Regions from separate parts of the Homo sapiens genome. Here region 1 is linked to region 2. Evidence: fine-mapped expression QTL. A gene starts in region 2. The other region holds a variant in brackets. All regions are shown on one strand. Distances are between the middles of the regions.

What was found. PIP is the estimated chance that this variant, and not a neighbour inherited with it, causes the effect.
Region 1: its variant is the best candidate, but not a certain one, in a credible set for the expression of APEH in whole blood (TOPMed, PIP 0.53).

The regions. Positions count from the first base shown.
Region 1 is chr3:49,689,692-49,701,372 of GRCh38, reverse strand. It overlaps RNF123 (ring finger protein 123), which reads right to left. Exons shown (of 39, transcript NM_022064.5): 2 at 10,126-10,243; 3 at 9,864-9,948; 4 at 4,151-4,230; 5 at 3,916-4,010; 6 at 3,434-3,488; 7 at 3,236-3,321; 8 at 2,847-2,933; 9 at 2,551-2,618; 10 at 2,268-2,393; 11 at 1,791-1,905; 12 at 1,601-1,705; 13 at 1,021-1,146; 14 at 809-901; 15 at 664-737. The coding sequence starts at 10,207. Among named protein-coding and RNA genes, the nearest start is that of RNF123, 6.0 kb to the right of the region's middle. The variant G/A (reference allele first, on the strand shown) is at 4,602.
Region 2 is chr3:49,669,576-49,681,256 of GRCh38, reverse strand. APEH (acylaminoacyl-peptide hydrolase) reads right to left here and starts at 6,906. Exons shown (of 22, transcript NM_001640.4): 1 at 6,844-6,906; 2 at 6,636-6,768; 3 at 5,948-6,074; 4 at 5,470-5,563; 5 at 5,291-5,366; 6 at 5,038-5,201; 7 at 4,742-4,879; 8 at 4,557-4,648; 9 at 4,440-4,480; 10 at 4,233-4,354; 11 at 3,624-3,684; 12 at 2,308-2,405; 13 at 1,613-1,664; 14 at 628-716; 1 more. The coding sequence starts at 6,855. It overlaps BSN (bassoon presynaptic cytomatrix protein), which reads right to left. Exons shown (of 12, transcript NM_003458.4): 12 at 9,708-11,681. RefSeq lists a silencer at 6,612-7,221.

The sequences.
Region 1 (11,681 bases), 20 kb before region 2:
GCATGTTGCTGCTATGTGTCTGACCCCCAGGGCATGCTCCCTGACAAAAAGCTGTGGTGGTTAAGCCCACCAGCTCCAGTACCCAGCAGGTGCACGATAAGGGCTTGTCACAGGAACAGATGACTGTGGGACAAGCTGGAGAGAGGGACTGGTGGCCTTTTCTCAGGCCCCAACTCTGACCTCTGTGTCTCCCAGCTTTGTGTCTGCCTCCTGGAGGCTGGAAGACCCCAGACCAAGAAAACGGCTACAAGCTGAGGCTTCCCAGCCAGGGGCTCAAAGCTATGCTCTCACTCACTCATGCAGTTCCCAACAATTCTGGGAAGCAGGAAGAGCTGCCTCCTTAAAGATCTTGCAGGAATCCCCACTGTGGAACATGAACAAAAGTGCTGGGCTGTGGCCGAAGAGGGCAGGCCCTGTGGCCCCTCCCACACCTCTGCGTAGCCCGAGTCTGCAGTCATTCAGAACCCCCTGGCTAGGCTGGCTGGCCAGGCTCAGTCCTTTGCTCTCTCGTCCTTGCTCTGTAGAGAAAATGCCACGTTGGGCAGCTCTGGTCCTCCTGATGCTCCCAGGGGACCCCTGGCCTGATGACACTCCCCTTCCTGGCCTCTGCTGAGTCCAGAGGGCACCCCATGTCTGGCCTGCCAGGCAGCAAGGAAAGGATACAGGACATTGCTAAGCAGAAACTTGCGGGACTTCTCATGCCTCAGGATGGCGATAGTGAGCCGCAGGTAATGGATCTGTGGAGAGGGGGCGTTCAGAGTGGACAGGCGAGTCCCAGGGGGCTCAGGGCAGGGGTAGGGGCTCCCACCTGTAGGCCCAGGTCTGGGACAATGGGTGAGAATCGGTACAGCCGAAGCAGAGACATCATCAACTGCTTGAGGCAATCTTGTACCTCGTAGTCCTGGGGGAAGAGATGCCAAGGCAGCCATGACTGGGGCCTTTTCCAAGATTCTCCCCGTATCTTCCCGACCCCAGTGAAGACTGACAGCCAGGCCTGAGGCCTGAGGTCAGGAGCCTCACCTCCATGAAGAGCCACAAGAGGTCCAGGACCTGGTGCACCACGGACTGTGCCTGTGTGGGTGTGCCCTTCTCCACGATGCCCAGCAAGAAGCTCATGAGCACAGCCTCCACCAGATACACCTTGCGCTGCACCAAGGCCAGGCACTGGTGAGGTGGTGGCCTTCCACTCTGGTCAAGGCACCCCTGCCCTGGCACATGGCCAAGGCACAAGCCTCAGGCACAGAGCCTTGAGCCACTCGAGCAACACCAAACATAGATGACCCCTTCCGGGGTCTGACTGAGGGACAAGAAGGCCATTGCCCCACGGCTCCTCTAAGGCTTGGCACACGCAGTTTCCTTGGCCTGGGATGTTATTATCCTTCAGTCTTCTTTCCAGGACATCCCCTGATGCCCTTGGTTGGCAATGTCCCTGTTTCCCTAGGGGACTGACTGAGGTCTGAGGGCCCTGGTCACATGGGGCCCTCGCCAGGTGATGCTGTGGGACCTCAGCACTGCAGCCCTCAGTGAGGGCACATCTACCACGGGCGTGTCTAGCATGGCCTGTCTCCTCCCCTCCCATGCCCCTCCCAATGCCGCTCACCAGAAGCGGTGCAAAGTGATGGAAGATGTGGGCCAGTGTGAGGAGGACGGTGGGCTGGCCCCGCAACCGCCACTTGGAGCTCTCCTTGTCCAACAGCCGCCCCTCCTGTGTGGAGGGGGAGGAGGGAGAAGTGTGAGGGGCAGGAGGCTGTGGAAGCCCCCCACCCCGCCTGGCCCAGACCCCAGCTCACCACAGGGTCCAGCTCCACACTCAGCACTGCCCGGAAGCAGCCCAGCAACCTCTGTGCCCGCACCAGGTCAGCACTCGGTGGGTCCTGCAGGGGCCGGTAGCCTGCCACTGGGTAGGTGCCAGAGTTAAGCCAGCAACGCCTTATCTGTGGCTCAGACATGCCTACTCCCTCTCCACTGCCCACCCCCCACCCCGGGGCCTGGGCTCTAGGGCAGGGCTGGTTTGCATCACAACTTGCCCACTTATTCTCCCTAGGGAGGATGCTTCACATTCCTCATCTGTTCAGTGGAGACAAGGGCACCCAACCAACCAGGCTGCTGCGAGGAAAGTTTTCTTCGACACTCTACATGGCCCCCCACTAACTCTGCAGCAGCCAGGGCCTGCCACCAGCCCATGGCACCCCTGGGGTAGGGAGCCCCTCATCCCAGCCTCCCCAAGAGCTTCTGAGCAGCCCACAGCCATCTTCACAAAATGATATCGCAGAGGACGGCTGCCAAAGTTGAAGGCCACGGACTCCTTGAAAGAGAGGCTGATGGCTGGGAAGTAGGCCATACCCAGGCCCCTGGACAGGTTCTCAAAGGCAGTGCCCAGTGATACACCGTTCCTGGGGAGAAGGGTGGGTCTGTGAGCCAGTGCTAAGCATGTGGCTGCCCACCCTCAGGCTATCAAACTCAGTCTGGCCCCTTACAGGGCCCAGGAAACTGGGGGCAGTCTGGGGAGGCCCCAGGGGCCAGGCCTGTGCATAGAGATAGGAAACTCACAGGCAGAAGGACAGAGTGCCATCATCCAGGTCAATCAGGCAGCTCACGATGTCCCCCGCTGCCCACGCCTGCCATGAGAGGAGGCCTCACCAGATGCACAGAAGCCCAGCAGCCTGCTGACTCTGAACCCCAGCTGCGTTTCCAGAACCACCCAAGGGAGACTAGCCACAAGGACAAAGGACCTGGGTCCCTGACCCTTCCCTGGTGCCCTGTAGTCCCTTATGGCTGCCCAGTGGCTCCAAATAAGCTGTAGTAACAGTCATGGGGCGGATGACCCACAGGGGCTTGGCTCTCACCTTGCCATAATTCGTTGTGGTCACATTCCACTTGCGCACGCGGTTGCCATCATAGGCATAGGAGTTGTGTGTATCTCCAACCCCCTCCTAGGGAGGAAATGCCTATGAGGTCCCTGGTGAGGCAGGCAGGGTCTGGGCCAGAGCCCACCAATCACCAGCCTTGGATGCATATGGCTCTACAGAAGGGAACAGATGATCTGAGGGAAAGAGTAAGAGGTATTCTCTGAGCTGGGGTGCCTGGGATTGGGTGGGACACGTTTCTTCTCCAGAGGGCAGTCCAGGTTAGTTAGGGTCCTAGGCAGTTCTGAGGGGATCTGGAGACCTGATGAGGCCTGTGGCAGGAGAAGCTCTCCCTGGGCCCAGGGAGGGGTCCCCTCCCCAACGTGTACCTCCTGGTTGAAGCGGCAGCTGATGGTGCACCAGCCGATCTGCATGAGCCCCTGGGAGGAGATGAGGACCTCGTAGAGCCATTTCCCTGGAAAGAGCTGAGTTAGGGCCACGAGGTGGACAAAGACTGCCTCTTGCCTCATGCCTGGGCCCTTAAACTTTCTCCTCACTACCTAGGCCACAGCAGGGTAAGGTCTCACCTTTGTACACGCATGTGGTAGAGCGGATGGTGCCAAAGTTGCTGTGTCCAATCACCTGGGTGAAGAAGAGGGGTGGTGGGCTAGCTCCCAGGCACACAGAGCATCTCCCCAAGGGAAAAAGACCCCATCCCCAACTGAGCCAGCCCTGGTGGTATTTGCCTGTGGCGGCCAACACTGCACTGTGCCTGAGGACGGTGGGAGCGGGTAGGCTTGTATCAGGAAGGATCCTGGGCCAAGGCAGGATGAGAGAGGGACTCAGGGCTGTGCTGGGAAGGGCTGGGGGCTGAGTCCACATCAAGACTGTTTCAGGGCTTTAGTGGGAGAGTTTGAGGACTGAGAACACAATGGTCTGGGGCCACGTCAGGACAAGTTTTGGCTGCAGCCCCATCAGATGAGTAGAGAGACTAGGGCCACATCAGGAGGAGCCTGGGGCTATGTCAGAAGGGGCTGGACCTGGGTCTCCACACCTCACCCTCACTCACCCCCAGCAGGTCATCATCCACCAGGAGAAGCCCCTCAAAGCCGCCTGTGTGGTCCAGGACCACAGTGGATGGGCCAAGCCGCCCTTCAACCTGTCCTGAAAAGAGGAGAGGTGGGGTCAGGCAGGGTGGAGCATTTGACAGGATGCATAGGGTGTCCTGAGCTCACCAGACGTCTCCAGGCCCGCTACGTCCCAGCTCTGCACCTCCCAACCCCACTCCAGAGGTGGCCACATACCCTGGCTTTCCTCCTCCTCATTGTCCACCTGTAGCAACTGGTCCAAATGTTCTGGCAGGTTCTGGAAGTTCAGGGGTTTCCTGGGGAGAGTGAGAGGCTGCCAGGGGTCCACAAGTCCTTGAAATCAGCCAGATGACACTAAATCCCATCCTTTCCCCTGAGCTCACAGGGGGGCTGCCTAGACTCCAGAAAAAGGGCTGTGCCTAGTCCTAGACTCTGGCATGCAGGAGGTCAGAAGGCCGAATTCTCCACTAAACTCAAAAGTATAACCAGTCCAGGCCGGGTGTGGTGGCCCATGCCTGTAATCCCAGCACTTTGGGAGGCCGAGGCGGGCAGATCACCTGAGGTCAGGAGTTCGAGACCAGCCTGGCCACATGGTGAAACCCCATCCCTACTAAAAATACAAAAATTAGCTGAGTGTGGTGGCGCATGCGTATAATCCCAGCTACTC[G/A]GGAGACAGAGGCAGGAGAATAGCTTGAACCTTGGTGGGGCAGAGGTTGTAGTAAGCCAAGATCGTGTCATTGTACTTCAGCCCGGGCAACAAGAGTAAGACTCTGTCTCAAAAAAAAAAAAAAAAAAAGTATGTGGCCAGGTGCGGTGGCTCATGCCTGTAATCCCAGCACTTTGGGAGGCTGAGGCGGGCAGATCACGAGGTCAGTAGTTCAAGACCAGCCTGGCCAACATGGTGAAATTGCGACTCTACTAAAAATGCTGGGCGCGGTGGCATGTGCCTGTAATACCAGCTACTTGGGAGGCGGAGGCAGGAGAATTGCTTGAACCTGGGAGGCGGAGGTTGCAGTGAGCCATGATCGTGCCACTGCACTCTAGTCTGGGTGACAGAGCAAGACTCTGTCTCAAAAAAAAAAAAAAAAAGTAGCCCTCTCTAAGTCTTAATTCCTTCATCTGTAAAAACAGAATAGTGACTTATGTTAGAGATGCTGTGAAGAGCCCAGGGAATAACAAGTGCTGTCTGCATAGCACATAACCTGTCCGCTCTCAAAGGTGGCTGTGCTGATGATGTCTGGAAGAAGAAGGCTGGGAGAAATGCTGGTTCCCAAAGTGGTCAGTACCAAGGCCACCTAGTCCAACCCTTGCCCCTAGGCCTGTGGTTCCTTTGGGGCAGATTCCAGTCTCGCCACCACCCAGCCAGGGGAGTCTGTGTTGAATGGGACATGTTCTGGAAGTATGAAAGGCTCAGCCCTCTGAGCTGCTGGATGGCTCTGTCCTGTACCCGCCAGTCCATAAATGGTCAGCGGAGCACATGACCCACCTACCCGAGCCAAAGGAGTTGGGAAAAATCTGTCTGGGTGGCCCCCTCATCCTCTCAACACACAGGCCTAGAGGGAAAAGGGTACTGTCTAATGCCAGTCAGTGCTGTCCTGAGCTCAGCTGCTAAGAATAGCAGGGAGTGAGGTGGTGGTAACCAGCAGGACTCAGGCAGAACAGAGGCCCATTACACACCTGGCTGCCCACAGGGTGCCACCACCTGCTCTTCCACCTTTAATGCCAGTTCTTACCCCACTCATCCACACAGACAGAAAGCTCTGGAAGGGGACAAAGGTTGGACAAGCACCCTGACAAAGTAGCCACTACCCAGGCTCAGGGATCACATATTCCCCAGTGTAAGCCACTCCCAGCCCTGAGCTGTAGGAGCAGAGATGCACAAAGGCCCCTCCCCACTGCTGCTCTGTCCCAGGCCAAGGCCAGGTGGTGGCTATGCAGTCGGGGTGCTCAGCTAGTAGCATAGAAGGCTAAAGCCAACCCCATCTCTGAATACCCCAGTGGGCCCAAGGATAAAGGAGCCTTCCTCAAAAGCAGTTACAGGCCAAGCATGGTGGCTCACACCTGTAGTCTCAGCACTTTGGGAGGCTGAGGTGGGAGAATCACTTGAGCCCAGGGGTTTGAGACCAGCCTGGGTGACACAGTAAGACCCTGTCTCTTAAAAAAAAAAAATTAGCTGGGTGCTGTGGCATGTGCTTGTGGTCCCAGCTATGTGGGAGGCTGAGGTGGGAGGATTCCTTGAGCCTGGGACTTTGAGGTTGCAGTGAGCTATGACTGTGACATAGCGAGACCCTGTCTCAAAAGAAAACAGTTCTTAACAAGCCCACACTTGGAGCAGCTACTCTTGTACCTGACCCCAAAAGTCGTGTGCCTGATCCTGAGAGCAGACTGCACATATCTGTGGGCAGTCGGCCTGAGACAGCCACCACTGAGTGCCTACAGCACTGCCCATTTGGCCAAGACCAGCAACTTCCCTGACCTTTTTGGATCTCCTAGGTCCCAGTTCAGGGCCCTGAATACCCACAACCACTGACTGACAGCCCTACCACCTGCTGTCTCTCCTGGCGGCCACAGCAGCAGCAGCAGCAGTAGGACCATCTCTGGTATCACATGAGGTAGGGATCAGATGGCTCTGAGAACAGGCCAGGACTGAGTATGGGGTGGGGGTGGGCAGGAACTCTCTGCAAGCAGGCACTTTCTGACCACCACAGTTGCTTAAATAGAACAGGTAACGTTGCTGCCTTTTGGACCTGCCTAAAGGGCAGAAGTCGTAAAAGACAGAACAGCTAAGGCTGATGAGGGGGTGAGAGACAGGGACAACCGTGCCTCACTGCAGGGAGGGAGAACCTACTTGATCCTTTGAAGAAGTAATCTGGCAACAGTCTTAAAAGTGACTGCAGTTCAAACACTCTAGCCACACGACTCCAGCCCTGGGCATCCTCACAGCATTGTTTACAAAAGCAAAAGTCCTTCCAAACTAGGGCACTGGTATGGGCCACAGCAGACCCCCTGGCCCTAAAGATGCTCAGTAAGATAAATTGATAATGGGGAAAAATACTCACGGGATAACATTTGATGATAAAAATAGGATGCAAACTTCTATAGACTTTTGGAAGTGAGGGACATGTCCATTACCTTGATGGTAGTGATGGTTTCACGGGTTTTATATATATGTTAACACTTATCAAATTGTACACTTTAAGTATGTGTAGTTTATTGTATATTAATCATAGCTCAATAAAAACGTTTTAAGAAAAGAACTGAAGGTGATAAATTTTTTTAAAGTTTTCTATACAGCATAATCTGAACTACATACATTATAAGATAAACAGACATGAAGTTAAAAAGCTTCTGCATAGCAAAGTAAACGATCAACAAAGTGAAGAGACAGCCCACAAATGGGAGAAAATATTTGTAAACTACCCATCTGACAAGGGATTAATAACCAGAATATACAAAGAACGCAAACAACTCTATAGGAAAAAAACTAATAATTCCATCAAAAGATGGGCAAAAGATACGAACAGACATTTCTCAAAAGAAGACATACGAATGGTAAACAGGCATATGGAAAGGCATTCAACGTCACTGGTCATCAGAGAAATGCAAATCAAAACTACGAGATATCATCTCACACCAGCTAAAATGGCTTTTATCCAAAAGACAGGCAATAACAAATGCTGGCGAGGTTGTGGAACCCCTGTATGCTGTTAGTGGGAATGTAAATTATAATAGTGCAATCACTATCGAGAACAGTTTGGAGGTTCCTCAAAAAACTAAAAATTGGTCAGGTGCGGTGGCTCATGCCTGTAATCTCAGCACTTTGGGACGTCGAGGTGGGAGGATCACCTGAGGCTAGGAGTTCGAGACCAGCCTGGCCAACATGGCGAAACCCCATCTCTACTAAAAATACCAAAATTAACTGGGTGTGGTGGTTTGTGCCTGTAATCCCAGCTACTCGGGAGGCTGAGGCAGGAGAATTACTAGAACTTGGGAGGCAGAGGTTGCAGTGAGCCAAGATCATGCCACTGCACTCCAGGCTGGGCAACAAGAGCAAAACTCCATCTCAAAAAAAAAAAAAAAAAAAAAAAAAAGGCCAGGCACACTGGCTCACGCCTGTAATCCCAGCACTTTGGGAGGCCGAGGTGGGCGGATCACGAGCTCAGGAGATCAAGACCATCCTGGCTAACACGGTGAAACCCCGTCTCTACTAAAAATGCAAAAAATTAGCTGGGCATGGTGGCGGGCACCTGCAGTCCCAGCTACTTGGGAGGCTGAGGCAGAAGAATGGCATGAACCTGGGAGGCGGAGCTTGCAGTGAGCTGAGATTGTGCCCCTGCACTCCAGCCTGGGCAACAGAGCAAGACTCCGTCTCAAAAAAAAAAATTTTTCAAAAAAAAAAAAACTAAACTAAAAATTGAGCTACCATATGATCCAGCAACCCCACTGCTGGGTATATACCTGAAAGAAGGGAAATCAGTATATCAAAGAGATATCTGCATTCCCATGTTTGTTGCAGCACTGTTCACAATAGCCAAGATTTGGAAGCAATCTAAGTGTCCATCAACAGATGAATAAATAAAGAAAACATGGTACATATACACAACGGAGTACTATTCGGCCATAAAAAAGAATGAGATCCTGTAATATGCAACAACATGGATGGAACTGGAGGTCATTATGTTAAATGAAATAAGCCAGGCAGAAAAAGACAAACATTGCATGTTATCACTTATTTGTGACAGCTAAAAATTAAAACAATTGAACTCATAGAGGCAAAGTACTGGATGGTTACCAGAGGCTTGGAAGGGTAGTATAGGGCTTGTGGGGAGATGGGGATGGCTAATGCGTACAAAAAAATTGAATTAATGAGACCTATCTGGTAGCAGAACAGAGTGACTATAGTAAATAATAATTGTACATTTAAAAATAACTAAAAGAGTATAACTAGATTGTTTATAAGACAAAAGATAAATGCTTGAGGGGATGGATACCCCATTTACCATGATGTGATTATTACGCATTGCATGCCTGTATCAAAGTATCTCATGTACCCTATAAATATATATACCTACTACATACCCACAAAAATTAAAAATTAAAAATGTAACACAAAGAAAGAAACAGAAAAGAATCACATTTGAATAGTCATGTTAAAATAACAAGATAGCAGGTGCTTTTCCTTCTTTTTTTAGAGACAGGGTCTTGCTCTGTCACCCAGGCTACAGTGCAGTGGCATGCAGAGGCCAACTCACTGCAGCCTCAACCTCCTAGGCTCAAGTGATCCTCCCACATCAGCCTCCCTAACAGCTGGGACTACAGGTGCACACCACCATGCCCAGGTAATTTCTGTATTTTATTGTAGAGATGGGGTCTTGCCATGTTGCTCAGGCTGGTCTTGAACTCCTGGACTCAAGCAATCTACCCACCTTGGCCTCCCAAAGTGCTGGGATTACAGGTGTGAACCACTGTGCCTGGCCCTCTAAGTTTCTGCTAAAATGTACTTGTAACTTTTATACTGACTACACTTAAAAGTATTAAACTTGTAAAGAAAAGGCCCTGGAGGAGTTTGTTCTTTACAAGGTCAGTCAGAAGCTACAAGGGGCCAGGCTGGGGCCAAGGTGAGGGCAGGTACATGCAGGGGCAGATGCTGGGTATGGAGTAGGTGCCAGGTGCTAGCTGGGCATGAATGTGCACCCGCTCCCTGACCTCTGCTCCCTGACTCTCAGAAGGAACTAGCACTGCCTGGAGACAGGAAGAAGCAGAGTACGGAAGGCAGACTCTCTGGCCAGAGATCTCGCAGCCAGGAGCACAGTGAGAACAGAGCCTAAGCCTATCTGTCCAGAGCCCAGGCTCCCTTTCCCTACAACTGCAGCCTCCTTATTCTGGTCTGGCCCAGCAGAGTGAGGAGGGGCCACCCACCCAGCCATACCTGCTGGTGGCTGCTGGGGGTGCATGTTCAGAAGAGGAAAAGATGCGGTTCAGGTAGTCATTCAGCAGCTTCTCCTGCACAATGCCTGAGCCACAAGTCAGAAGGGAGAAAAGGGCCACATGATCAGTGCAGCTCCTGGCCCCTGCTGGCCCCAGAGACTTCTGGTCCTAGGCCAGCCACAGGTGCAGCAAGGCCTGAGGCCTTTGTCCCTTCCTTCTCCTCCCAACAAGAGGAGCCTCCTTCCTTCCCTGCCAGCTCTTACCTGTGACCCTGGATTTCTCAGCATCTGAGGTCAGCCTATAGCTCTTGCGGGAGAAAGACATGCCGGCCCCCTTGGATGCCATCCTTCATCTCTCATGGGCAGCCAGTGGTCCTGGGGGCTGAGCCAGACACAGAGCCTGTCTACTCAGGGCCAGCCAGGGGCCCCCACACCTGACCTCAGTCCTGCCATGGCAGGAAGGCTTGGGAGCAGGTGAGGCCAGGGGCATGCACACTAACACATAGGGCAGGGGAATGCAGGGGCTCCCAGCTTCCTACACAGGGAGGGTAGCCAGGGTCTAGGCCCATGTAACAGGGACCACTTCTTGTTCTCCAGTGTCCCTGTGCCCAGCACAGGGCTGGGCAGAGAGCAGGTACTAGATATATTTTTGCCGAACCATAACAAAATGTCTCAGCTCTGTGGAAATCAGACCAAAATGTCCAAAGTGAGGTGTCCTAGGGGCAGAGCCCCTGTATCCATCTCAGTTGTAAGCCATACTGAGTCCAGCTCACAACCAGAAGCGACAATCCTACACATTCCCCCAAGTGCAGACCACCACTGGTCTGGTCATCTCTAGCCATAAGTCCCACTTACTCCCCACAAGGCTGGAGCCTCTTTCCTCAGCCCTGGGTTCCTCCCTTCTTTTATCCATGGTCCTGATAGTTTCACCATTCCCACTCACACATGTGGCCTCCCACCTCATCCAAGCACCACCCTTGCCCAGCCCTCATGGCAAACTCCATTGGTCCTCCTAGTGCATCTATCCCTCACATCATGTTGCTGCTGCAGCTGCTCCAGAACCTGCACTGAGTCCCTGGTGCTGGCCTCACTGATGTGTAGCGGTGCTGTCCAACACAGCAGCCGTCATCCACATGAGGTTACTTAAATTTAAAGTTTTAAAAATTAACAATTCGATTTCTCAGTTGCCTTAGCCACATTTCAAGAGTTCAATGACCACATGTGGCTAATGGTTACTCTGTTGGACAGCACAAAGGTAGAACGTTCCCACCATCATATAAAGTTCTATTAGACAGCGCAGGTCTAGAGTTTCGCTCTGCAGCACTGCCTTAGCCAGCACTCCCTACTCTGCAGTTCAGTCTCTTATCTCACCCCAAACAGACCCTCTACTCCCGCCACAAACCCTTGTGGGTCTGCACCACGCCTGCTCCTCGGGAAGGTGATTTTCCCGACCTCGGGCCCTCGGTGGGCGTCCATGATCGGTGCCCCTTCACTACCAGAGTAGTTGAAGATCTGATTAAACTCAGTCATTCATTTGATGAGCAGACCTTCCAGACACCCGGAGTGGGCTCCGGGAGTCAGTTGCTGAGGACCCAGGTGAGAGGCGGACCTTGTCCCCGCCCGGGGACTCCCTGTCACGGCTATCCCGTCCAACCCCGCCGGGGTATCCGGACTCAGAACTGAACCTACTCCGTCTGGGAGCCCAAGGACGGCGAGGGCGGCGCATGGCTCCCCCAAGTCGCCCCCGCCTGGCCCCAAGCTCCACAGGACCTGCCAGACCAGCTTCCGCTCGGAGTTTCGCACCCAGATCCCTGCGCTGC
Region 2 (11,681 bases):
CCCCTGGCCCAGCTCACCATACTGCACATTCTCTTGCTCTGGGGGTGGCTGTAGCACCCGGATGCCCCAGTGGATGTCGGGAATGGGCTCGGCCTCCTCCAGGGACACCCACAACACTGACTGCTCCTTCCCTGCAGAAGGCAGGAACCCAACTTTCTGCCAAGGGGAAAGAATGTGTCATAGGTGGCCTGGCTGCCTCCCTGCCCTTCCCTTCTGCCCACAGTGGGAAATAGGCAGCTCTCACTATGCTGGGCCCTCTACCCACCTCCAGAAGGTACAGCATGGCTTCCTGTTGTGGGATGGTATATACCAAGGTATTCATACTCATACAATCACACACAGGCACACCCCTCCCTCCTCAGCTTCTAGGCTCTGCTGTCTCCTTTGCTCTGTAATACCAAGACAGAGCACTTCCCCAGGCACCTTGTTTTGTACGGAGCAGATTCTAGCCTAGTAGTTCGTCCCTGTGAGTGCCAAACCCTCATGGACCATGCCAAGCTGGGCCTGTGTCTTGGCCCGTCTGTATGCTGACCAGCCAGGTCAGACTCTGGGGCCAATTCCCTGACCTGGTGAGCTCTGCCTGCCCAGAACCCCTGCCTCCACAGCCTGGGACCCACCGACACTCACCAGGGTTGGAGGTAGGCTGGGTGTGGAAAACTGTGCCACCATGAGGTCCTGGTCAATTGTGAGCAACTTCCAGCTCCCACCTGACCCTCCTGGAAAAGGCAGATGCCATTAAGTGCTTAGCAGGAGCCATCACCTTTCTTACCTGCTTCTCTGTAACAGAGTCCCAGGCTGGAGACTCTATGGAAAGGTGCCCTTTTCTCCCCGAGAAGTGCCTTTCACAAACACCCAACTGCACATGGCCCCGGGTGAGCCTCCTGCTCTCAGTCTGTTGTTCATCTGACAGACACTGGCTGGGCTGGGAACTGCCAAACCTTAAGACACATCAGACCATGCAGGCACATCTGCCTGTCCCTCGATGGCTGCTGTGTGCAGGGTGGCAGCTGGGACCGGGAAGTTGGGGGTCGGGGAGCGTGCTGATTTGGGGCAGTGGTGTCCAAGCAGTTGTACAATGAGATGTAGCTTTGGAATGATACTTTGGTAGCTTTGTGGAGGAGCGGATACAGTCAGGTCAGGTGGAGGACTCAAAACACATTTCAAAGGCAGAATCACCAGGCCTAAGTATGGGGAAGACGGGGGAGTCAACACTGGGCTTTTCCTGGGCCCTCAGGTGGCAGAGCTGCCTCTGCCTGAGACAGGCACCCAAGGTTTGCAGAGCGAGAAGGATGAGTCTGGCAGATCTTGATAAGAGAGAGTTTTGTGGGTTTTAGGAGCAGAGGTGGGGGCCGTGCTGAGGCTGGGCCAGGACACATGGAACAGAGTTGAGTGCTAAAGGGCAGTAGAGCAGGGAAGCTAGTCTGTTGGTTGGGTAAGGGTCTGCACAGACAGGGGCCTTGGGGACCTGTTAGTAAAGGCTGTGGAACAGTCAGTGGTGCTGAGTGGCTGAGAATGCCATCACTGCCCCACATGTTGGAGCTCCAGTCCCCCGCTGCCTGGTTGGCTTGCTCACCAGCCCTGCCCTTACCCCCATCCCCAAAGCCTTGCTCACCAGCTGTGAGGGAGGTCACAGTGCCCACTTGGGTGTCCACAGCAAACAGGTCCTGAAGCAGAGGCAAGGCCACAGGTGCGACCACATCCAAGAGTACTCCCTCTACCTATGGGTCCCTCCCCTACCTCCTCTCTACCCTCTTGGAGAGCCCTGGCCAGACCAAGGCTGTGGACAGCTATGGTGATGGTTACTCAGTGCAGTAGGGAGTAGTGTGAGGGCCTGGGTTCAAATCCCAGCACCATCACAACTTGCTGGGTGACCCTGGGCAAGGTAAGGAATGGCTTTGAGCCCCTTTGAGTTGGCACAAGGACCAAATATCACACCCAAAAGGAGCCTGGCACACTGTGAGTGGCTTTACTCCATCCCTGGGGGAAGGCCTCAGTCCTGTCCCCATCAGCTGCCATTACAGAGTGTTCAGGGACCCACCCGAGTGGCAGTCCCCTTGACCCCCAGCTAGAAATGCCTGGGAGGGGTTGCATCTCTGCCTCAGACGAAAAGGCCTGAGTTCTGCTGTGGTGCACCAGGGCAGCCAGTCCCCTCCAGGAGAAATGAGTCCAGGATGGGCAGGCAGGGTTTTAAGGGGCTGATGAGACTTTGTGGCTGGGCATTCCACCCAGGGGCATGCACATGCAACCCCCAGGGCTCCTGGGGGTTGACCACAGGGGCTGCCCCTCAACACAATCAGCGTCCCTCACCTGCCGGCTGCGCTGAGCCGAGTCAAAGACCACTCTCTGGCTGTCAGCTGACCAGCATCCCAAAGGCAGAAGGCTGCAGTAGATCCCAGAGAAGTTCTCTGTAAAGATAGGAGGGCTGAGGCTGCATCCAGGAGTGGAGGTAGGGAGGGTAGTCTACAAGGAAGGCTAGGGTACTGGGGAATTCACCCAGGGCCCTACTCAGGCACCAGTCAGGCCCCTGCAGCTTGTAGCACACATGGGGGCACGCTACGCGATGAGGAGCTGCCTGAGTAGGTGGCTGAGGGGCAGAGGCCTCTTGGGACCCAGAGAGGACCCAGAGAGGCAGAGCTCAAGAGCTCCAGAGAGAAACCATGGGTGCTCAGAGGAAAAGCACTTGCTCTCCTGAGTAATTCCAGTTGAACCCAGGTAGGTACCAGGTGCTTTAACCAAGATATCATCTGTCCGTCTTATCTCCACTGTGGTGCTTAGCACAGCGCTTGGCACAGGGGGCTCAGTAAATCCTACCCTTTAATATCATCACTCACTTAACACTCACTATGATCCTATGAGGCAGGCAGACACAATCACCCCTCCATGAAGAAATGGGAGCTCAGGGAGGCCAGGACCCTGTCTGAGGACACAGCTAATTTAGGGCAGAGCTGGGATTCATACTAGGTTCCCACCACTGCATCCCTGCAACCCAAAGAGAAGACAAAGAGGCTATCCCTTGTCCACTGAACTCCTGGAACTGACCGGGTGGCCTGAGAAAACAAGAGACTCATCCTTGAGATGGTCCAGGAGGATCCAAGCAGAGCTATCAACACTCGAGACGGGAGCCTCTCAGCCAAGAGCCACCCTCCTGAAGACCCAGCTGACTTCAGGGCTTAGACTGGACAAAGGTTGCTGGGGTTAGGATGGTGGATGGGATAATATCATGCCCTCGGGTCCAGAGCCTCTCGAGTGTGACATTCCAACCTAGTGCACTTCCTGAGACCCACTTGAAGGAGTCATGGTTTTGGTTTGAACCAGCCATTGGAAAAATAAGAAAACTCTAATTATGACCTGCAGCACAGGAAATAATACATCATCAACTTGGGCCACTCTGATCTCAGCTTGGTCCTACCACTCCTTGCTATTGAACTGTTCCCTACGGTGACAGCCCCGCTCCCTATGGTGACAGCCCCGCTCCCTGAGGATGCTGGGCATAAGGCTGGCCCAGCAGGGAGGTAGGGCCCTCAGAAGGAACCTAGGAAAGAAGAACGGGGCAGGGATGCAACAGACGGCAGGAAAGCAGAGCTACAGGCCCCACTGCACCCACCCAGCCAGGTATGCCTTACCTCCCAGCTGCCGAGGCACAACATCTACCACCACTGAGGTAACCTTGGTATACCAGTCATACTGCAAGAGAACACAATGGTCAGGTCCAGTAGGGGACAGGCAGTTCCCTTAGGGCACAGTGCCCTGTGCCTATCCCCTTTTGCCTCAGGTAGCCCCAGGAGATGGGGGAACTGGAATAAGCCTGATGTATCTCTTTTCTGGTGACCTGGACCAGATGCCCAAGGGGCCTCAGATAGGCATGTCCCTCTGACTTTTACCAGGGGCCCAGAGCTCTTCCTGGGGAGGGTCTGGGATTGTGTAACTCCCCACTATATCCCAGCCCCTTGCAGAGCCTGGCTACATGCAGTTGAGAGCCAAGGGGAGGAGCATTCTTGCAGACGAGCATTCTCTCAAGGTGGAATGCCCCAACAGTGCAAAGCTCTCCATGGCAGCACTCTCAACCTCTAGGCCCTCCTTGAGAGGACAGGCAGAACTCACACCGCTGCTGCATTGAGGACAGAAGGGCACCTACTGAGGGCCTATGGGGAGATGATACTGGCCCTTCAGCTCTCATCCACCATCCCATCTTCTTGCTGACCACCCTCCCATCCCTGCCACCTCCAGCTCACCAGGCACAGCTGGCTGCATTGGTGATGGGGGATCAGAGATGGGTACTGCAGGTAGACAATGCGACATTGGTCTGGGCTCAGCCGGGGAGAAGAGACAGCCAGGGAGTCATCCGAGAGGAGCTCTGGGCCAGATGGAAACATGAGCATCACGCAGGCTGGCAGGGCCAACATGTGTCAGCAAAGCACAGGTGGGCATCAGCCACTTACCACACTTCCCCCCGATGAGGTCCACATAATACAGGGCTGACCTGGAACCACGAGACAGACACTCAGTCTCAAGGCCAGCTGGGCTGCAAGGCCCCTTGCCTTGCCCCACTCCCTCACCTGCGATTGGTGCAAAAGCGGATGCCCAACCGGAAGGGCTCATGCCACCAGCCCACAAACACCACACCAGCATCTCCAGGGGCCCAAAATGCCTGTAAACAGGATCAAAGGGCAGGAGTGAGCAAGGGGTGGTAGCTCAAGAAGGGTCCCAGACTCCAGGGGGGACACAGGCTGTTGCTGCTGACCTGTCCAGGGGACACATTCTCAGGGACCCCCTCAAGCACAGAGATGTTGCCACTCTCGACATCCAGCACGCAGAGCACAGGGATGCTTTTGGAAACCATGTTTTCTCCCCAGTCTTCATAAAACACAAACTGATCCCCCTGAGAACACAAGATACTCAATGCCCAGCCTGTCTATAGGACCTGCTCTGCTTCCTAAAAGCTAGTGCCTCCCCAGGTCTGACAGGCACAGTATGGGAAGGGAGCACACTGAGCCCCAGGGCTGCCCTGCCGGGCCTTCGTGGATTGACCACGAGCACCTTGATGGCTTGGTCTGGCTTCTTCAGCCTGGCTATCTCATCATCGCTGGCACTGACGTCCAAGGCTTTGGTCTGAAAGAAGGACTCGGCCTTGGGGCGCTTCTTCTCTGCCACATACAACAAGTGTGTCTCCGAGTGCGACCAGGACAGGCAGCCAAAGCAGTCTGGGTGCAGGGAGGGCCAATCAGGGGGGGCCCAGGGCTACGGCTACCCCTCCTGTCCACCCTGCCTGCTCACCAGCCAGATGCCTCACCATCCTCATAAACAGGCCCATGTTTCTCCAGCGCTGACAGGTTGAAGCTCTTGAGCTTCCGGTTCTTCTCCCAGACCTGAGGACATCTGGGCATTAGGCTGTTTGCCCGCTAACAGAGCCTTATCTGTGGGGCAGAGCCTCTCTCTTGTCACCCACTACCTGGTCCCATGCAGACTCACCTCCAGGAACTGCTTCTCTTCCCCAGGGCCCGTGCCTCCAGCCTTGCGCAGCACAGCTTTCATGGTGCCTGAAGGAGACTCTCTGCTCAGCAGTCTGTGGACATGGGGTAGCACAGGTCAGGATTATCTTGCAATAACCCCTTCCTGCTCCCTACTGGGCACACCTCTTAGGAGAGATTCTTGAGGCTCTGGCCCCACACCAGCTTCTGGAGCACCTCTAGCCCCACCTTGCCTTTCCTCCCTGAGGCAGAGACTCTACTCTCTGCAACTCCCCAGGCCACCATGGGCTCTAGTCCAGGCTGAGTTTGGAGCAAGCTTCCAGTGCTTATCAGGCCATGTCACCAGAAACTGAATGAGCTCCCAAGGGGGCAAGAACCTGGCTGCTGGCCTCCCTTCTAGGCACATGGTGAGCATTCATAAAAGGCTTGCATTGCGGACGGCTGTGGCCTTGCCCACAAGCTTCCTCCCTCAAACTTACTCCCCCCGGGTCTCCACACTGTTGCCTGCAGGTCCTGCAAACACCACTGAGTCCCCGTCATGGAACACCAGGTATTGGCGGCAGAATCGAATGTTCTCCATGCGTTCCAGGTCCCTCTGGGTCCACTCTGTGAGGGGAGGCATGAGACTGCTCACCTTGTCTTGGCTACTCCTGGCTACTGCCCCCAGCCCCACCTGACCCAGGAAGGCCTAGATCTATCTTCCCCAATCTCTCAATCTGTCTCCAGACACTGACACCCTGGCTGCAGGCTGGACAACACTTGGCCACAACCCTAGTCCAGGCCTCCAGAGCCTGAGCTGACAGCCTCTTTGAGAGAACCCCCTAGTAACCCCAGCATCCACCCTGGAATCTTGAGGGCAGCCTGGCATGTGTATGGGATGGCGTGTTGGTGGAGAGCCCTACAAGGTCCACGCCCTGAGCCCAGGTTTGACTTCTACCCCTACGCCGTCATCTCGTGCACTCATGGCCGCCATTCGATAACGCCCCGCACGCCCCCTCCCCCCCTCCACACACCTGTGTGCAGGGACCTGTGGGAGTGTAACCTCCAAGTCCAGGCCGGCTCCCTATATACCCTTACGCACTGTCAAGCAGCGAGCCCTCCACACCCCCTTCCTTCCCACCCCAGTGCGCGACCCCGTCGCCAGCCAGTTCCCCTTCGCACACACACCAGTGTGCACCGTCCGGTATTGGCCGCCGTACTGCGTGGTGACCTCCGGGCCCAGGCAGGCGGCGCTCAGCGCGGGCTGGCGGCTAAGGCCCCGATACAGAGCCGCCGCCTCCTCGGGCTCGCTCAGCAGCACCTGCGCAGGGGACACACCAGGGTCAGGCCCGGCCCGGGCTGCAGGGACCACGGGGACCGCGGGCCGAGCCCTCACCTGACGTTCCATAGTCTCCTCTCTGCCGCCGGGGCGAGGCGGGGCGTGCTCGCGCCCGGAAGTGAGGCTTCCGGGGGCGGAGCCTGGGACGGCCCGGGCTGTCTCCGCCCCTGCCCTGCGGCAATCTGTGAGGGGCGGGGCCTTCGGCTAATGGGTGAGGACCGTTGGCAGGGGGCGGGCCTTGACGGTGAGAGGACCCGGCCTGGGAGCGAGAAGTCCTGGGTGGGTGAGAGCAGGGGTCTCGCCAGGGGCGGACTAGCCAAGTGGGGGGCGGGGCCGTGGGCTGAGTCCTGGGCCTCTTACCGAGGGGCGAGGCGTTGGATCTCGGAGGAGAGGGGGCGGCCCTGTGGAAGCGGAACCCGGGAGCCCGGCTTCGGGGAGGGTAGAAGGGCCTACGAGAGAAGGGGTTGAGGGGGTGCTGCAAGGCGGAAGCAGCGCGGTCGGACGGGCATGGCCCAAGCACGCGAAGGGCGGGGCCCGAGGGGAATGGGACCAATGAGTCTTTGAGGATGAAGGGCAAGGCGGGCGGGTCCGGATTGGAGCCCTGCGAGGAATGTGGAGCCGGGAGCCTGTGAGCGTGAGCGTGAGCGTGAGCGTGAGCGTGAGCGTGAGGGTGAGGGTTGGGCGGGGCGGAGCCGGCCGCAGCGTGGATCTCCCGCGGCTCTGGGGCTGACTGTAGGGTTCCTTCGGGTCCACCACGAGGCCGACATTCACTACACAGTGCCAGGCCCTGCCCTGGAGGGAGTTCCACGCAGACGAAGAAGAGAAGGGCCAGGGTCCGGGCGGAGGGCGCGAAGCAAAGCCCTGGGGTGCGGGGCAGAGGGGCGGGTGCCAACTCTTAGGGTGCTGCCCGGACTTATCAGTCGCCAGGCCTGCCGCAAGAGCTATCTATCCCCGCAGCCTTTACCCAGCCTTCTCAGTGGCACCTTGTTGGGGACCGTGAGCTGGTGGGTCCCTGCCTTCCTCCCCAGGCCTCACCCTGAGCTCTTGGGTGTGAAAGGCCTGGTGGGCTCAGACTCCACCCAGGACCAGGGAGCTTCCTGTGGAAAAAACCTAGGCAGGCAGGTTCCCTGTGCACGTGGTACAGGATTGGCTGGGCTAAGGTGCCAACAGAGATCAGGAGAGGCTGGACAGTAAGGATGTTCCCTCCATATACCTGAGTCTGGCTGGTCTTCCACATTCAGGGCCCTGGCTCCCTGCTCCATGGCGTGCTTGTGATTGAGAGTCCACTTGTCTGGCCTGTAGCTTCCCCTTTCCCATCAGCCGCATCATTACTTACTCAAGATAACTAGTTAAGTAAAAAAAAAAAAAAAAAAAAAAAAAAAAGTCCCGGCCGGCCGGGCGCGGTGGCTCACGCCTGTAATCCCTGCACTTTGGAAGGCCGAGGCGGGCGGATCACGAGGTCAGGAGATCGAGACCATCCTGGCTAACACGGTGAAACCCTGTCTCTACTAAAAATACAAAAAATTAGCTGGGCATGGTGGCAGGCGCCTGTAGTCCCAGTTACTCGGGAGGCTGAGGCAGGAGAATGGTGTGAACCCGGGAGGCGGAGCTTGCAGTGAGCCGAGATCGCGCCACTGCACTCCATCCTGGGCGACAGCCAGAGTCCATCTTAAAAAAAAAAAAAAAAAAGTGCCAGGCGCGGTGGCTCACGCCTATAATCCTAGCACTTTGGGAGGCTGAGGCGGGTGGATCACCTGAGGCCAGGAGTTCGGGATCAGCTTGGCCAACATGGAGAAACCCTGTCTCTACTAAAAATACAAAAATTAGCCGGGCTGGGTGGCACGCGCCTGTAATCCCAGCTACTCGGGAGGCTGAGGCAGGAGAATCGCTTGAACCTGGGAAGTGGAGGTTGCAGTGAGCCGAGATCATGCCACTGCACTCCAGCCTGGGCAACAAGAGTGAAACTCCGTCTCAAGAAAAAAAAAAAAAAAGAGTCCCAACTTTCTGACGCCACTGCATTTGTCAGTATGTACAGGACTGTATCAAGGCCAGAAACAGGAGTAGAATGAGTGGCCCCAGCCACCAATTTGGGTGGAAAGATTGGAAAATAGGATGTTCATCAAGCATTGTTTATAATAGGAACACTGGGAACATAGTGCCTGTTCCTTAGATTGTGTGTGGTAGACTGGCTATGAACTAATGGTGTATCTCTCTGGAGGTTGAGCACTGGAAGACGAACATTTAAGTACCTGAAATAAACGTGGAAATAAACAGAAAGCTAGAAAACAGGATATATTGCACCTTCTGGCTTCTGTTTAAAATGAAGACTGGAACAACAAACAGGAAAGAAGGACACGCATCAAAATGTTAATTCTGGGGAGAGGGCCAGAGGTGAAGCTGGGATTCCTGTTTATCTGTGTTAAAAAAAAAAAAAAAAAAAAAAAAGGTCTAGCAACTCTGGGTGACTTCGGTAAGGAGGTACTCCTGACCATCTGAGGAAGGCCTAAGGTCTGGCAGCCGGTGAGAGTTTGGGGGTTGGAAAATTCGGAGCAAGGCAGAGAGGTGTAGGGCTTGTTGGCAGCACCAGGGGGCAGCACTTGTTCACTGCCTCCCTGGAACCAGGTCCCAGAAAGCTGTGTATGCAGCCAACACACCTGAAGGCCATGGAGGTGCTGTCCCTCAACAGCCTGCGCACTGACTGCCTGCTCCAGGTCCAAGCTTGGGACCTCCCCTTGGGCACCTTTGTGGAGGGCCCATTGTCTTTGGATGGCTTGGTGTGGACTCAGCCCCGTGCTGTGCCAGCACTTCTGCAACTTTGTCCATCCTTTTCCCTTTAACCATGGACAGGATTGTCGCAAATTTGGGGATTTGCTCCTTCAGCTAAGCCTTCCCACTTGAGAAACCATCCCAGAAACAGTCTGTAGGTTGTTTATATCAAGTCCTTTTATTCTGATACCACAGAATTACCTTGTCACAATACAGGGGGAGGGACACTGAAGTACCACGAGTTCTCACAGAGCACAGAAGGACAGCACACAATTCACAAGGTCATGTGGAGGACTCGGGTCATTGCACTTACAACTGTAAACTTGTTTGTTTGACTTTGTACAGCACTCTTCCCCCCTCAAATAAAGAAGGAGAGAAGGAAAGAAAGGGAGAGAGGGAGGAGGAAGGGGAAAGCAAAAACAAGACATGAAAGCTAGAGGAAAAGGTATTGAGTGGCCACCACTCTCCAGGGTAGTGCACTTGGAGAGAAGGAGCTGATTTGACCCCAGAAACTGAATGAGGCAGAAACACACACACACACACACACGCACGCACGCACGCACATACACACATGATCATGTGCATACACATACAATATCTCACGACTGCCATGGCTCTCCAGTGCCACCCCAGTGCACATGGCAGCAGGGCTGCTGGCACCCAGGGAGACAGAGATGGCATCTCCGAGGAGTTTCAGTTGATTAGGCCTGTCCCTCTAACCCTGTTGGAGTCCATGATGACAAGTATTTACAGCATGGGGGTGGGTAAGAGGAGAGCAGACGGGACAACAGGGCAGGACCATGCTGTCCTGGCAAAGGACCTGCCTGGAAAACTCCCTACAGGCTCCAGAAGGCAAGGCATAGTTGCCACCACTGCTGTTCTTTCACTGTGGGCCCTCAGACCACATGCTCTGCCCAAGGATTGTAGGGGAGGGCTGTCACTGTGAAGTGAGTGCACTGGGCCCTGAAGTGAGCAGAGAGAGGAGGCAATGCCCTTGCTCATGATGCTGGGGAGAGGGGTATGGAGAAGGCCTGGGCTGCATGCTAGAGACTCCTTGCCCATTTGGAGATGTGTCTGTTGCTCTCTACTTTCCAAGGCACCAAGTGCTGGTCCCTCAGCTTCTGGCTGCATTGTCCCCAGAGTCACAACTGCATCCATGCAAGGGCCAGGAAGGACAGTCCATGGACCAGAGGCCTGCTCCAGCCACCTTCACAGAGGGGCGATGATGTATCCTGTGGGTACAGTGGGGGATGAGGAGTGGCAGATGTCAGAATTTCAAACTCAGAGGGCTTGGCCAGAAAGGAAATTTGCTGAAAAGTCAGTACTTTAGAGCCTGAGACTAGGCCTGCTGGAGGCTGACCTCCTAACATTTCCCTGCCTGTTCCCTACTTCTTGTCCCATCCCCTGGCCTGTAGTGGAAAGGACTATTGCCTTGGTCTCCAAGGCACATCCCCACACAGACCTGGTCCTGGGTGGCCAGAGGTGTTAGGTGATGGCTTCCCTCAGCCCTTGCTCAGATGGCTGCATTCAGCCCATACCTGATCTTTGGGATGAGGCAGGTATTCCATGGGTGGGGTGAGGCCAAGTCCCAGAAAGGCAAGGGTGTTAAGTCCAACACAAAGGTTGGCAGCTTCCTGTCCCATCCATAGCTACCAGAGGTGAGCGAGGAGCCCTCTCTGAAGGGGTGTGTAGATCTTATAGAAAAGCATGAGAAATGCGGACCCCTGAGAAATGCATGGTGCAAACCAGAGCACTCTGGACGAAGGTCAGGCCTTGAAGGGTCAGGCAGGTACTGCCTGCCGCACTCCTGGCTCAATGGTAAAAAAGCTGATGAGCAGCGGGACGCTTGGGCTTTGGAGAAGGGGGTGAGCAGGGAGCATAGGTCCTGGGGACAGATGCAGAGAGGGTCACACAGGACCTTCTGTAAGATTTGCTATTGAGAAACTTCACAAGAAACTTAGCTTGAAGCCACTGTTTATATGAACAGTTCCAGATGACCACTGTCAACTGTTCTCACCACAAGTGCCAAAGGCCCAGCTCTTCCTGAGCATCCATTGACCCCCTAGCTCCAGCCCAGATCTCCTGGCTCACAGTCCTTTGAGCCTCCTAGCCACAGAGGAGAGGCATGA